Linked DNA regions of Homo sapiens. The protein of the gene in region 2 interacts with the protein of the main gene of each other region in a biochemical or structural test. Each region holds a gene or a part of one and is shown on either strand. Other genes may lie near its edges.

Region 1 (3,500 bases), on a different chromosome or scaffold from region 2:
AGGAAGAGAGAAGGTGACATTATGAAGGAGTAATTATATATAAGAATTTTTTTAAAAGCTAGTCTGATTGCCAGCTAAAATGGTCTCCTAGGGGTTATTCTGGTTTCTGTTTTGTGTCAAGGTTTTTTTGGTCGGATATGCCGTAGTGCCTGCTCCATCTCTGGAGTTTGTTTCCTATTAGGAAGGGACTTTGTTTGCCTGAGGGAGCTGGCACATGCTGGACGTTGGTGCCATGACCCATCTGAGTCACATTCCTGACCTCTAGGGCCTAATAGTTGGCCCCATGCCTGCTCCTCTTGGGCCACACACCCTGGGCTCTGTTGTTGAAAGCCTCCTTTATGTGCTCTAGGCTCCCAGAACCCTGGCCGAAGCTCACCTCCCCCTGGCTATGTTCCTGAGCGGCAGCAGCACATTGCCCGGCAGGGGTCCTACACCAGCATCAACAGTGAGGGGGAGTTCATCCCAGAGACCAGCGAGCAGTGCGTGAGTATAGGGGGGCTGGGATATGCCTGTGGCCTGTATCAGCAGACCAAGCTCATAACAAGGGGTTCTTAGTAGTCACAGTGCAGAACTGAGGGACATGAACCCCATTTGAAAGCTCTTTTATAAACCAGGCCTGCCCAAATATGGATTGTCCCTTTTTAAGGGCCAAATAACAATTTCTGCCAAAGATGGGATCTAAAGGATCTAAACTACATAGTTTCCTTGTTGTTGGGTGAGGATTTAACAGATTTTTCTTCATCGTGGTCCTCTCATTGTTCCTACAGGCAGGCACCACCACGCCCAGCTCATTTCAGTAGTGTTTTAACATACGACTGGTTCTAAAGTGACAGGTTATGTTTTTCATTGGATATATTTTAGTTTTGCTGTTTCTTGATGAAAGGTAAGGAGTAAACCATATCAAAATTACACTGTAGGATTGGTTAGGCTGATCATTTATGATGGTAGACAGTTGTATTAGTTATCTATTGCTCCATAACAAATTACCACAAACCTAGAGGCTTAAAACAATATACATTTATCATTTTCCAGTTTCCCTGGGTGAGGAGTCCAGGCATGACTCAAATGGGTCCTCTGCTGAGGGTCACACAAGACTGCGATCAAGGTGTCAGCCAGGCTGCCTGCCTTTCTTGAGTTTGAGGCTCTTTTCTAAGCTCAGATGGTTGTTGCCAGAATTCAGTTTTTTTGTGGCTGTAGGACTGTGGTTCCTCTTTTCTTCTGAATGTCACCCAAGGGCTTCTCTGAGTTCCCTTCCTAGAGGCCACCTGCAGTTCCTTGCCATGGGGCCCTCTCACAACATGGCAGCTTCTTCAAAGCCAGCAGGAGAATCTTTTGCTCCAATCTGCAAAGATGGAGTCATAAAACATCACATAATCATAGGAATGAATATTCTATCCTCTTTGCCATAGTCTATTGGCTAGACTCACGTCACAGGTTCTACTTGCACTAAAGGGAAAGGCAGTTCATTGGGACTAATTGGAAGAGGGAGCAATCACCTTAGGGTGTGTCTACCACAGTGGCTCAGCCATTTTAGTGGCTAGCTTTTAAATTGGTGGCTTACTTGATGCAAATGGCAATTTGGCTTAGTGAACTCACCAAGCATGAGATCTCTAGCTTCATTCTGGTCTTTTCAATAAACTTGCTTTGATGTAAAAGAAAAGGCTGCTCTTACACTTTCTGGGCTTGGCCTGAGAAGGGGAAATTTCTTAAGGGGAAAATGTCCAACAGAAGGGCCTGTGCTGTCACATGGGAGATCTTATAAAAAGCTGATTCTTGTAACTTTTCTTTCATTATTCAAACTATGTAGGCTATGAGAAGCCCTTTGTACTCTTCTTCCTTCTATACTCCTGCCTTCCAGATAAATTCATGTTTGGAGTAGTGACCTGGAGTGCCATTAGCTGCAGATTTCCTTTTTGGGCATTTTACTGACCATCCTTTCTGGTTTCTCTAACCAGGGCACTTCTGGACATCAGCTGTTCTAGGGGTGACTTGGGTGTAAAATCCCAGAGATTGCAGATGAGCTTGATTGCCCTCAGTCTATGTCCCTCGCCATGGTCCTATACTCTGCCCCCTTCACTTTTTTACTTTGCCTGCATGGCCCTGGAAGGCCTGGGAGGATTTGACTCCCAGTGAGGACAGACTTTTAGAAAGAGGCCAAGGAAGGCAGTGGTTGGGGATTGCCAAGGTCCTCCCCCAGCGCCTGCCTCTTTAGCTGAAGAGAATTGCTCCTGGTAACAGGCCATTTGAGATCAATCTGCTTAACAGGAACGAACACTGCATAGTATGTAATAAAAGAATATTCCAGTGTGACTTTACTGAAAAGTGAAAATATGATAAGTTTTGTTTTTTCTTTAATCAGGTTTAAGCAATAATTGCATCTATTTACTAATTTTTAGAATGAGCAAAGCATGATTCATGTTAATTTTTTGGCCTAATTTTTCCAACAAAAATTATGTCAGTCCGGTCGCAGTGGCTCATAGCTGTAATCCCAGCACTTTGGGAGGCCAAGGCAGGAGGATTGCTTGAGGTCAGGAGTTCAAGACCAGCCTGGGCAACATAGCAAAACCCTGTCTCTACAAAAAAAAAAAATTTAATTAGCTGGGCATAGTGGCACACCTGCCTGTAGTCCCAGCTACTCGGGAGGCTGAGGTGGGAGGATCACTTGAGCCCAGGCTGCAGTGAATTGCACTCCAGCTTAGGTGACAGAATGAGACCCTGTCTCGAACAACAGCACCAACAACAAAATGCTAGCACAATGTAACGTCCTTCACTCCCTGCTTGACTTCTAACCATAAAGAACGTCATTTTTTACAAGAGCGTTCACAGGACTCAGCAGTTTTCCCCAAGGCCTCTTGTGAATCTTTGGTATTCTTCCTCCACCACACCTGCCATGTTATTTATTTGTCCATTTTGTCTTTTTCTGTTAACTAGTCTAAATTTGCCAAATATGCATCTGATGGATTTAAAGCAATTCTCTCCGATGTTGGTTTCATCCACTTTGGCTATCCTATATCCTTAGCAACATTTGCAGTTTTACTTTGCAATTAATTTGCCTTGATTGGCAGATTTTAAAAAATCATGTGTGACAACATGACTTAAAGCATTTGAAATTATGGGTGGGGATGGACCCTGGTATTAAATGGGAAAAAATATTTGAGTTGGAAACTAATTTTATGGAGGTCGTTAGTGAATTTTCATAATTCTGATACTTTGTTTCCCTATGTAATTTTTTAAAATTAATTAAAAAAATATTTAAACAGAAACAAGATCTCACTATGTTGCCCAGGCTGGTCTTGAACTCCTGAGTGCAAGTGATCCTTCCCTCTCGGCTCCCAAAGTGCTAGGATTACAGGCATGAGCCACCAAGTCTGGCCCCTATGTAATGTTTAATGTTGGAGCTCGGATAATGAATATTCTGAAATTGAAGACCCCACCCCAACTTTTGTGCAGAGAAAATGAAAGGGAGGACCTTCAGGACATTGATTGGAGAAAAAGGGATT
Region 2 (3,500 bases):
GCCAGGAACTCGAACTGGGTGGAGCCCACCACAGCTCAAGGAGGCCTGCCTGCCTCTGTAGGCTCCACCTCTGGGGGCAGGGCACAGACAAACAAAAAGACAGCAGTAACCTCTGCAGACTTAAGTGTCCCTGTCTGACAGCTTTGAAGAGAGCAGTGGTTCTCCCAGCACGCAGCTGGAGATCTGAGAACCGGCAGACTGCCTCCTCAAGTGGGTCCCTGACCCCTGACCCCCGAGCAGCCTAACTGGGAGGCACCCCCCAGCAGGGGCACACTGACACCTCACACGGCAGGGTATTCCAACAGACCTGCAGCTGAGGGTCCTGTCTGTTAGAAGGAAAACTAACAAACAGAAAGGACATCCACACCGAAAACCCATCTGTACATCACCATCATCAAAGACCAAAAATAGATAAAACCACAAAGATGGGGGAAAAACAGAACAGAAAAGCTGGAAACTCTAAAACGCAGAGCGCCTCTCCTCTTCCAAAGGAACGCAGTTCCTCACCAGCAACGGAACAAAGCTGGATGGAGAATGACTTTGATGAGCTGAGAGAAGAAGGCTTCAGACGATCAAATTACTCTGAGCTACAGGAGGACATTCAAACCAAAGGCAAAGAAGTTGAAAACTTTGAAAAAAATTTAGAAGAATGTATAACTAGAATAACCAATACAGAGAAGTGCTTAAAGGAGCTGATGGAGCTGAAAACCAAGGCTCGAGAACTACGTGAAGAATGCAGAAGCCTCAGGAGCCGATGCGATCAACTGGAAGAAAGGGTATCAGCAATGGAAGATGAAATGAATGAAATGAAGCGAGAAGGGAAGTTTAGAGAAAAAAGAATAAAAAGAAATGAGCAAAGCCTCCAAGAAATATGGGATTATGTGAAAAGACCAAATCTACGTCTGATTGGTGTACCTGAAAGTGATGGGGAGATTGGAACCAAGTTGGAAAACACTCTGCAGGATATTATCCAGGAGAACTTCCCCAATCTAGCAAGGCAGGCCAACGTTCAGATTCAGGAAATATAGAGAACGCCACAAAGATACTCCTCGAGAAGAGCAACTCCAAGACACATAATTGTCAGATTCACCAAAGTTGAAATGAAGGAAAAAATGTTAAGGGCAGCCAGAGAGAAAGGTCGGGTTACCCTCAAAGGGAAGCCCATCAGACTAACAACGGATCTCTCGGCAGAAACCCTACAAGCCAGAAGAGAGTGGGGGCCAATATTCAACATTCTTAAAGAAAAGAATTTTCAACCCAGAATTTCATATCCAGCCAAACTAAGCTTCATAAGTGAAGGAGAAATAAAATACTTCACAGACAAGCAAATGGTGAGAGATTTTGTCACCACCAGGCCTGCCCTAAAAGAGCTCCGGAAGGAAGCACTAAACATGGAAAGGAACAACCGGTACCAGCAGCTGCAAAATCATGCCAAAATGTAAAGACCATTGAGACTAGGAAGAAACTGCATCAACTAACGAGCAAAATCACCAGCTAACATCATAATGACAGGATCAAATTCACACATGACAATATTAACTTTAAATGTAAATGGACTAAATGCTCCAATTAAAAGACACAGACTGGCAAATTGGATAAAGAGTCAAGACCCATCAGTGTGCTGTATTCAGGAAACCCATCTCACGTGCAGAGACACACATAGGCTCAAAATAAAAGGATGGAGGAAGATCTACCAAGCAAATGGAAAACAAAAAGAGGCAGGGGTTGCAATCCTAGTCTCTGATAAAACGGACTTTAAACCAACAAAGATCAAAAGAGACAAAGAAGGCCATTACATAATGGTAAAGGGATCAATTCAACAAGAAGAGCTAACTATCCTAAATATATATGCACCCAATACAGGAGCACCCAGATTCATAAAGCAAGTCCTGAGTGACCTACAAAGAGACTTAGACTCCCACACATTAATAATGGGAGACTTTAACACCCCACTGTCAACATTAGACAGATCAACGAGACAGAAAGTCAACAAGGATACCCAGGAATTGAACTCAGCTCTGCACCAAGTGGACCTAATAGACATCTACAGAACTCTCCACCCCAAATCAACAGAATATACATTTTTTTCAGCACCACACCACACCTATTCCAAAATTGACCACATAGTTGGAAGTAAAGCTCTCCTCAGCAAATGTAAAAGAACAGAAATTATAACAAACTATCTCTCAGACCACAGTGCAATCAAACTAGAACTCAGGATTAAGAAACACTCAAAATCACTCAACTACATGGACACTGAACAACCTGCTCCTGAATGACTACTGGGTACATAACGAAATGAAGGCAGAAATAAAGATGTTCTTTGAAACCAATGAGAACAAACACACAACATACCAGAATCTCTGGGACACATTCAAAGCAGTGTGTAGAGGGAAATTTATAGCATTAAATGCCCTCAAGAGAAAGCAGGAAAGATCTAAAATTGACACCCTAATATCACAATTAAAAGAACTAGAGAAGCAAGAGCAAACACATTCAAAAGCTAGCAGAAGGCAGGAAATAACTAAGATCAGAGCAGAACTGAAGGAAATAGAGACACAAAAAAACCCTTCAAAAAATCAATGAATCCGGGAGCTGGTTTTTTGAAAAGATCAACAAAATAGATAGACCGCTAGCAAGACTAATAAAGAAGAAAAGAGAGAAGAATCAAATAGACGCAATAAAAAATGATAAAGGGGATATCACCACTGATCCCACAGAAATACAAACTACCATCAGAGAATACTACAAACACCTCTACACAAATAAACTAGAAAATCTAGAAGAAATGGATAAATTCCTCAACACATACACTCTCCCAAGACTAAACCAGGAAGAAGCTGAATCTCTGAATAGACCAATAACAGGATCTGAAATTGTGGCAATAATCAATAGCTTACCAACCAAAAAGAGTCCAGGACCAGATGGATTCACAGCGGAATTCTACCAGAGGTACAAGGAGGAACTGGTACCATTCCTTCTGAAACTATTCCAATCAATAGAAAAAGAGGGAATCCTCCCTAACTCATTTTATGAGGCCAGCATCATTCTGATACCAAAGCCGGGCAGAGACACAACAAAAAAAGAGAATTTTAGACCAATATCCTTGATGAACATTGATGCAAAAATCCTCAATAAAATACTGGCAAAACGAATCCAGCAGCATATCAAAAAGCTTATCCACCATGATCAAGTGGGCTTCATCCCTGGGATGCAAGGCTGGTTCAATATACGCAAATCAATAAATGTAATCCAGCATATAAACAGAGCCAAAGACAAAAACCACATGATTATCTCAATAGATGCAGAAAAAGCCTTTGACAAAATTCAACAACCCTTCATGCTAAAAACTCTCAATAAATTAGGTATTGATGGGACCTATTTCAAAATAATAAGAGCTATCTATGACAAACCCACAGCCAATATCATACTGAATGGGCAAAAACTGGAAGCATTCCCTTTGAAAACGGGCACAAGACAGGGATGCCCTCTCTCACCAC
Region 3 (3,500 bases), on a different chromosome or scaffold from region 2:
CTGGTCACCCTGCATGGCCCGGATGGGAGCCCTGTGCTTGGAATTTGGCTCAGCTAGGCTCCCTGGTCAGCGTATGGCCGGGTCCACATGTAGGAGCCACGGCCTAGAGAGGCCTAAACCCTCACCCGAGCCAGAGGCCACAGGGCTGGAGAGGCCGCAGCACGGGTGTGGTTTCCACGGGAGGCTCCAGGCCCGTCTCTGCTCAGCAGGGTGTGCCAGGCCCGAGGGAGCACCCTGGACAGCCTGAGGACAGCCCCGAGGCTGAGGCCTCCACCCTGGATGTGTTCACGGAGAGGCTGCCGCCCAGCGGGAGGATCACCAAGACAGAGTCCCTTGTCATCCCCTCCACCAGGTGATGGGGGCTGCACGGCGGGGCGGGGCGGTGATGCACCTGTCGGGGGAGGGGCCGTCACGGGCATCAGTCGGGGTGGGTGCGTGTCAGTCCATCCTGATGAGCTCCCTCGGGTGTAGACAGCAGATTCAGGGCCTCGTCCTTCTTAAAAAGGAGAAGCAAACCCCCTGGCCCGGCATTGGGTGTCAAGCCTGCAGCCCCAGATTCCACCCTACCTGTTTGAGGGCAGGGTCAGGCGGGTCTGCCCTCCAGCAGGTGCCCCCACATCCCCCTGAGTAGCCCCTGCCTCAGCCAAAAGACACACATACACCAGCTTGATTCTTCCAGGATTTCAATTTCATGTTTCTGTGATATTTGGGACTTTTTCCAAAGCAGCGAGTCTGGGCACTGGTTTTTACCTTGTGGTGGCACGCAGGTGCCTGTGTCCGCGCTTTGGAGCCAGGTCGCCCTGGCAGCCTCAGTGCCCTGCACTGGCCTGCACCTGGCTCTGCCCAGCTCTTGGCCCGGGCAGGGAGGGTGAGCTCAGTCCTCACGGTGGCTCCAAGCCTCCTGGCCTGGCTCGAAGTCTCACAGGCAGAGCTGTGTGGGGTCCCATCGGAGGCACGGCCTCACTTGTACTCAGCTGCTGCTGTGGCCCTCCCAGGGCTGGTGACCTCTCTGTGCAGCCCATGTTCCCACTGCCCATCAGTCAGCCCTGTGCTCACCCTTCCCTGTCCCCACCACAATGTGTAGGCCACTGCAGGCCTGCCCCTGCCTCTGCCCCTGTTCCTGTTCCTGCTGCCACAGCCACTTAGCCTGTCCTGGTCCCCAATAGGTCCGAGGGGAAGCAGGCTGGCCGACGGGGCCGGAGCACATCCTTGAAGGAGCGGCAGGCAGCACGGCCCCAGAATGAGCGGGCCAACAGCCTGGACAACGAGCGCTGCCCGGACGCCCGGAGCCAGCTACAGGTGCAGCTGCAGGTGGGGGTGGAGGGCGTGGCACGCCCAGGAGGCAGGGCTCGTGGTCACCCTGGCACCAACCAGAGCAGGGCAAAAAGAGAAGCACAGGGGGCCAAGGGTGCTGGGCCACAGAGCATGCCTGGGCTTTGGAGGGCTCCTGCTACACAGCAGGGCGGGCGGGCCATGGGTTGGTTTGTCAGGAAGACCATGTGGACCCCAGGGCAAGTTCTAGTCCTTCTGCTGCCCTCCCTGGTCCAGGGCAGCCTCATTGCTTGGCTGATTTAGCCCAGGGCAGTTCTCCAAGCTGGCCAGCTCTCTTCCTGCCACCGAGCCTCTGTGGCTGCAGGGGGAGCAGGGGCACTGCAGGCACCAGGGCTGGCGTGGTGGGGATGGGCGCTGTGCTTCTCTTCTGGGTGTGGACAGGGCTCTGTGCCTCCAGATCCCCAGGAAGACTGTGTATGACCAGCTCAACCACATCCTCATCTCCGATGACCAGCTTCCCGAAAACATCATCCTTGTCAACACCTCGGACTGGCAGGGGCAGGTAGAGGGGCAGTCTCTTGGAGTGGAGGGTCAGGGTGTAGGACAGAGGAGAGTGGGTTCCTGAAGCTGCCCCCTACCCGGCACACCTGGGTGCTGGAGCTGCTGGCTGTGGTTTGCCTGGACGTGCCTGGGGTCTCTGGAGCCCCTGAGAGCTTTGGTGAGGGTCAGGTGCTGGGGGTGGCCTGGGCGGCTGTGCCGAAGTCAGCGTCTGCCTGTCTTCTGCCAGTTCCTCTCCGACGTCCTGCAGAGGCACACGCTCCCCGTGGTGTGCACGTGCTCTCCTGCGGACGTCCAGGCGGCCTTCAGCACCATCGTCTCACGGATACAGAGATAGTGAGTTGGGCTCCACCCTGTACTCACCACCCAAGTACCCCTCGGGGTCCCTGCACCCCCACCTCTGCCCATTGCTCCGGGGCTAGGTGCGTCCTGGACCTGGGGCTGTGGCTGGTGTCCACAGAGGCTGACCCATGCGCTCTTCGCAGCCTGGCCTCCCCTCAGTTGTGGGCGGGAGCAGCAGCCTGGTGGGTGTCCTGCCACACTGGAGTGGTGGCCTCCTGGCCTGTCCTTGGAAGCCTGGGCTGAGGCCATGACTGTGTGGTCCCTCAGCCTGGGCACGTTTGGGCATGTGGGGGTCCTGGGCTTGGGCAGCTCCAGGGCAGTTGTGGCATGAGCGGCCACAGGCACGGAGCCCCCTGGGCTCACACTGGCATCCTTGGATGGAGGACGGCTCCCCTGAGGCGTCTGTCCCCTCTCCGTCCCACCTGCCTCTGGATTGCAGCTGCAACTGCAATTCCCAGCCCCCGACCCCCGTGAAGATCGCCGTGGCGGGAGCGCAGCATTACCTCAGTGCCATCCTGCGGCTCTTTGTGGAGCAGCTGTCCCACAAGACACCCGACTGGCTCGGCTACATGCGCTTCCTGGTCATCCCACTGGGTGAGCACCACGCCGTCCACCTGGGCCTGGGCACAGATGCCACGGGCAGTGTGGCGTGGCATGGAGTGGTGTGGCGTGGCGTGGCGTGTTGTGTGGCGTGGCGTGGCGCGGTGTGTCGTGGTGTGGCGCGGTGTGGCATGGCGTGGTGTCCCTGCTTGCTACACATTTGTTGTTTTTAAATGTTTGTTTGATACAGTAACACTTTGTTAATTTTAATTATATGCAAGATAACTTGATTGCCCTAAAACAGCCATTTGGGTCAAGATAAAGCCATCGCCCTCTGAAGGGGCCTGAGCTGGGTGTCTCCTCCATCAGTCGCTGTGATAACTCTATGCCAGTTTCGATTTCCAAAGTCAGAAGTGCAAAGCAGGGCTCGTTATTAATCCTCTCAAATCGTCCAGGTCCTGTGTCGTCGAACTCCATTACTTCTTTAGGTCCATACGATGTGTCTTACCACGAAACAAACCCACCCAGCCTTAATCTGTTGACCAGCAGCAAGGCCTGGAGGCGACACCTCTCCCGTGTGGCCCTCACGATGCCGACGTCAGAGCCCTGAGCCAGCCGAGGCCTCTGCACGGTCACATGTGCCCTGCTGGGCCTTCCTCAGTGGCACTCAGGGCTCTGGGACCTCAGCTCAGGGCTGGAGCTCCTTCAGCGGGGCCACAGGCATCCACCAGGGAGGGGCAGTGGTGGCTTTCTCTTTCGGTGGCAGGAAAGTGGGCTTGTCTGGAAGG
Region 4 (3,500 bases), on a different chromosome or scaffold from region 2:
TCTCTCTCTTCAAAGACTCACTTCTCTCCTAGCAAAGCCATATGATTATTTAAAACTCCGGCTCAAATATCACTTCCTCCGTAAAGCCTTTTTCAAAGAAAAATTGTTTGCCATTTCCTTTCATCCCCTAGCATTCTATTCATATTTCCATTACACTTCAATTGTATTATTATCTATGTTTACCTGTGTTATTTCTGAGTATCTTTTTATTCATCTCTCTCCTCTATGTATGGACTCCTTGAAGACAAGAAATATCCCAATATTTTTATATCCTAATTTCTAGGTCAGTGCATGGCATGCTGCAGGTGTGCACTGATCACCGAACTACTCTGTATCTTTGTAACTTATAACATGGCTCACAGACCAGCAACATTGGTATTATGCAGGAGTATGAAGAAGTTCACGGTCCATTCTACAGTTACTAAATCAGAATCTGCATTTTAATAAGGTCCCCAGGTATTCCAAAGCGCATTAAAGTTTGAGAAGCAATATTCTAAATGTTCTCCTCCATGAATTCCTGGCATCCTATATATGAGTATGTTTCTCCCAGAACTTCACCAATATAGCACAGTGCTTTATATTTTTGTCTCTCTCTGCCACTCTCAGACTACGGGCAACTTGAGAGCAGGAACCATCCACATGTATGAGCAATCATAAGATGTCTGTGTTTTGCTTGCAGTACTTACCTGAGGTATGTAACCTGACTCCAACATGAGAAGATGTATCAACACTATCAAGGCATCATTGGCATCAGAACAGTCAGCTGATTGATACAAGGTCTCTAATGAATGTGGCACTTGCCCTTCCACCGATTCACTACAGAGCATGGGTTCTGAGGGATAGAAACCTGTGCCCTCTGCCATATGCGCATTATCTTGAATTGACTCAGCTTCAAAATTTTGACTAGGCCCTAACTGAAAAAGGAAAACAAAACAATGAATTAATTAAAGACTTATTTTTACACTATACATTTTTGTATCCTAAAGTGAACTAAGTGCTGAAAGTCAAAGTACATCATTGGGTTCAGAAATGGGAGACATTTTAAGTGAGTCCTTACAAATAAATAAGCCTGCGACCTACTCTTCCATCCTGAATTCCTTACCTCTGTTAATTCTAGCTGGTATGTCAAGAACCTGGAAATCATCCTAGACTCCTCCCTCCCTAACTAAACCTTGTTCCACATCTGATCAGTCTTCAAAGTTCCCTGAAACTAACTCCTAAATATGTCTAAAATTTGCCCCTTCCTGCTCTATTGGCACTTCAAACTCTCATCATTTATTTCCCGACATCCAGCAAGAGCTTCCGTTGCAAGTATCCCTTCTTCAACTTTCTTGTCTTCCAATACACCCCAGTCCCTGCTGCCAGAATTTTCTTGACAATTAAAAATCTGATCATGTACTATGTCGCAGCTTAAAATTCACCAGTACCTCCCCAACATAAACAGCATTTCCCTCAATTGTGCCTTAGATGTTCTTAGGAAAAAAGGTGGTGCACACGGAATAAGTGTGGAAAATACTGCATGCTGCAGCCACCTAACTTCACCCTCCATATTCACAAAATACACTATTCGCATTATATAAGCACTGAGGAGTCTAATAACAATAATAGTGTGTGCCTAACACTTTACCAAAAAACACTATCCTCCGTCCTCAGCAGTCAACATCCCTGTGACACCATCTCATGAAACTAGATTTTCAGAGGACACTGAGAAATGCAGGTCTACAAATGAAGACCAAACTTCTAAATCCCTTAGCATACAAAGTCCTTCATTACCTGATCTCTGACTCATTATCAAGTTCACTTTCTGCCAGTGCCTTCTTACTCATCCCAGTATTTTCCACTTCTTCAAAAGAGGTAACACAGACCACAACTCTGCCTTGCAACGGGCTTGATTACTGCACCTTATCACACTGCACTGTATTGCAATTTTCTGATTACATATCTGCATCCTTCCATGACTGCAAGTTTATAAAAAACCAGACTACATGTCACCCATTTTTGTAACCCCAGTAAAGTACCTAGCACATAGCAGGTATTCAATGTTTGCTGAACAAATGCTGAAGGATAATACCTTACAACTTCATAATGTCTTTATTTTCAAAATGTTTTCTTATTTGCACTTTATAACAATCCTATAAAATAGGCATGGCAGGTATCGCCTTTTTATAGATCCTATAATTATAAATCAGAAAGATTAAATAACATAATCAAGGTTACCAGCTAATAAAAATTTGAAACGAACCCAGATCTCTAAACTTGCAGTTCAGGGCTTTGAGATGTAATACATGGCTTCAAAAAAAACTAAGTTACCTATATTAAGTTTGCTCAGAAAGCTTGTTTCCTAGGCATATGCCCAACTCTTAATGCAAAGCATACGTTTCGTCTTTTTAGGGTTTGTTTAAAGAAGGGGCAAAGGAAATTAAAATTACACAGTATATGTAAAAGGTTGGAGAAATGGAGGGGAGCCGGAGGTGACAGCTGTTCTTCCAAAATCTCTGAGGACCTAAGCCCTAGGGCTTATGGAAAAGATCCAAAGTCACCTGTTAAAACCTAAAGGCCAATGACAAGTCACATTACCCAAAAAGGAGGTATGGCACAAAAATATTTCCATATTTCCTAAGAAAACAGAAACAACTACATTAAAAACCACTTAACATCAAGCTAAACTATGAAACATAGGTTTTGCTTCTTTACCACTATGTCTAACTTTTGGCCATTTACTACTTATTGGCAGTTGTGTGGGACAGAATATATGAGGAAAAATGAAAAAGGGTACCCTAGGCTGAGTACATGAGAGGGAGATATCAAAATCCCCTGCTGGGCTTGTCAAGCCTTACTACTACTCCATAAGAACCACTGACATTCTCTGAGCTATTCTGATATGAATATTTATCAAATTCTTCACATGTGTAAAAATGAAAAAAAAAAGGTGAGCACCACACCTCTCTAAACAGATCATTTTGCCATATGTCATTTACAAAAGACTAAAACAAGTGACTAAGATGCATGAGAGCTAATATTAGGTTCTGATACCTGCTACCCGTTTCTCATTAAAGACTCAAGAGGCACTCGATGAATTCCCAAATATGATGAAATAAGAAAACTGATATTTAATTACAAGAGTAAATTTACCTCCTATGGTTTCAAGTTTTACGCATCTATTTTCCTTTTCTAATGCTCCATTCTACATTACAGAGTGTGATGTACTTGAAAGCATTATTTATGAGATCTTGAGCTCAGTTTCCATACTCTAAAGATTTTCCTGTCACCCTTTACAAGTCTTGGAATACAAAACAATATGCAAAATCTTAGAACTGAAATTAGTAACTTCAGGCAACATTAATTTCTCAAAATTTTCCAAAAGGAAACTAGCAAACTATCACAAATACTGTGAAAAGCTTCATCTTACTAGACAACTTTAAAAGTACACAGAAGTAAAAGTAATGGCCCCTACTAAGTCATCCCAGAACAAGTCTATCAGCAAAAAAGACTCAGAAATA

Evidence for each region.
Region 1: of the proteins of BIRC2 (region 2) and MAP3K3, one has a biochemical effect on the other in vitro, tested with the Homo sapiens proteins (one study listed by BioGRID).
Region 3: the proteins of BIRC2 (region 2) and PACS2 form a complex in vitro, tested with the Homo sapiens proteins (one study listed by BioGRID).
Region 4: of the proteins of BIRC2 (region 2) and FBXO7, one has a biochemical effect on the other in vitro, tested with the Homo sapiens proteins (one study listed by BioGRID).

Annotation. Positions count from the first base shown.
Region 1 is NC_000017.11:63,681,417-63,684,916, forward strand, and holds part of MAP3K3 (mitogen-activated protein kinase kinase kinase 3), read left to right. Parts: intron 1-349; coding exon 350-483; intron 484-919; exon of another isoform or gene 920-1,342; intron 1,343-3,500. UniProt on the Homo sapiens protein: Component of a protein kinase signal transduction cascade. Mediates activation of the NF-kappa-B, AP1 and DDIT3 transcriptional regulators.
Region 2 is NC_000011.10:102,371,214-102,374,713, reverse strand, and holds part of BIRC2 (baculoviral IAP repeat-containing protein 2), read right to left. Parts: intron 1-3,500. UniProt on the Homo sapiens protein: Multi-functional protein which regulates not only caspases and apoptosis, but also modulates inflammatory signaling and immunity, mitogenic kinase signaling, and cell proliferation, as well as cell invasion and metastasis.
Region 3 is NC_000014.9:105,380,748-105,384,247, forward strand, and holds part of PACS2 (phosphofurin acidic cluster sorting protein 2), read left to right. Parts: intron 1-206; coding exon of another isoform or gene 207-209; coding exon 210-352; intron 353-1,166; coding exon 1,167-1,311; intron 1,312-1,729; coding exon 1,730-1,834; intron 1,835-2,059; coding exon 2,060-2,166; intron 2,167-2,611; coding exon 2,612-2,766; intron 2,767-3,500. UniProt on the Homo sapiens protein: Multifunctional sorting protein that controls the endoplasmic reticulum (ER)-mitochondria communication, including the apposition of mitochondria with the ER and ER homeostasis.
Region 4 is NC_000022.11:32,481,311-32,484,810, reverse strand, and holds part of FBXO7 (F-box only protein 7), read right to left. Parts: intron 915-3,500; coding exon 687-914; intron 1-686. UniProt on the Homo sapiens protein: Substrate recognition component of a SCF (SKP1-CUL1-F-box protein) E3 ubiquitin-protein ligase complex which mediates the ubiquitination and subsequent proteasomal degradation of target proteins and plays a role in several biological processes such as cell cycle, cell proliferation, or maintenance of chromosome stability.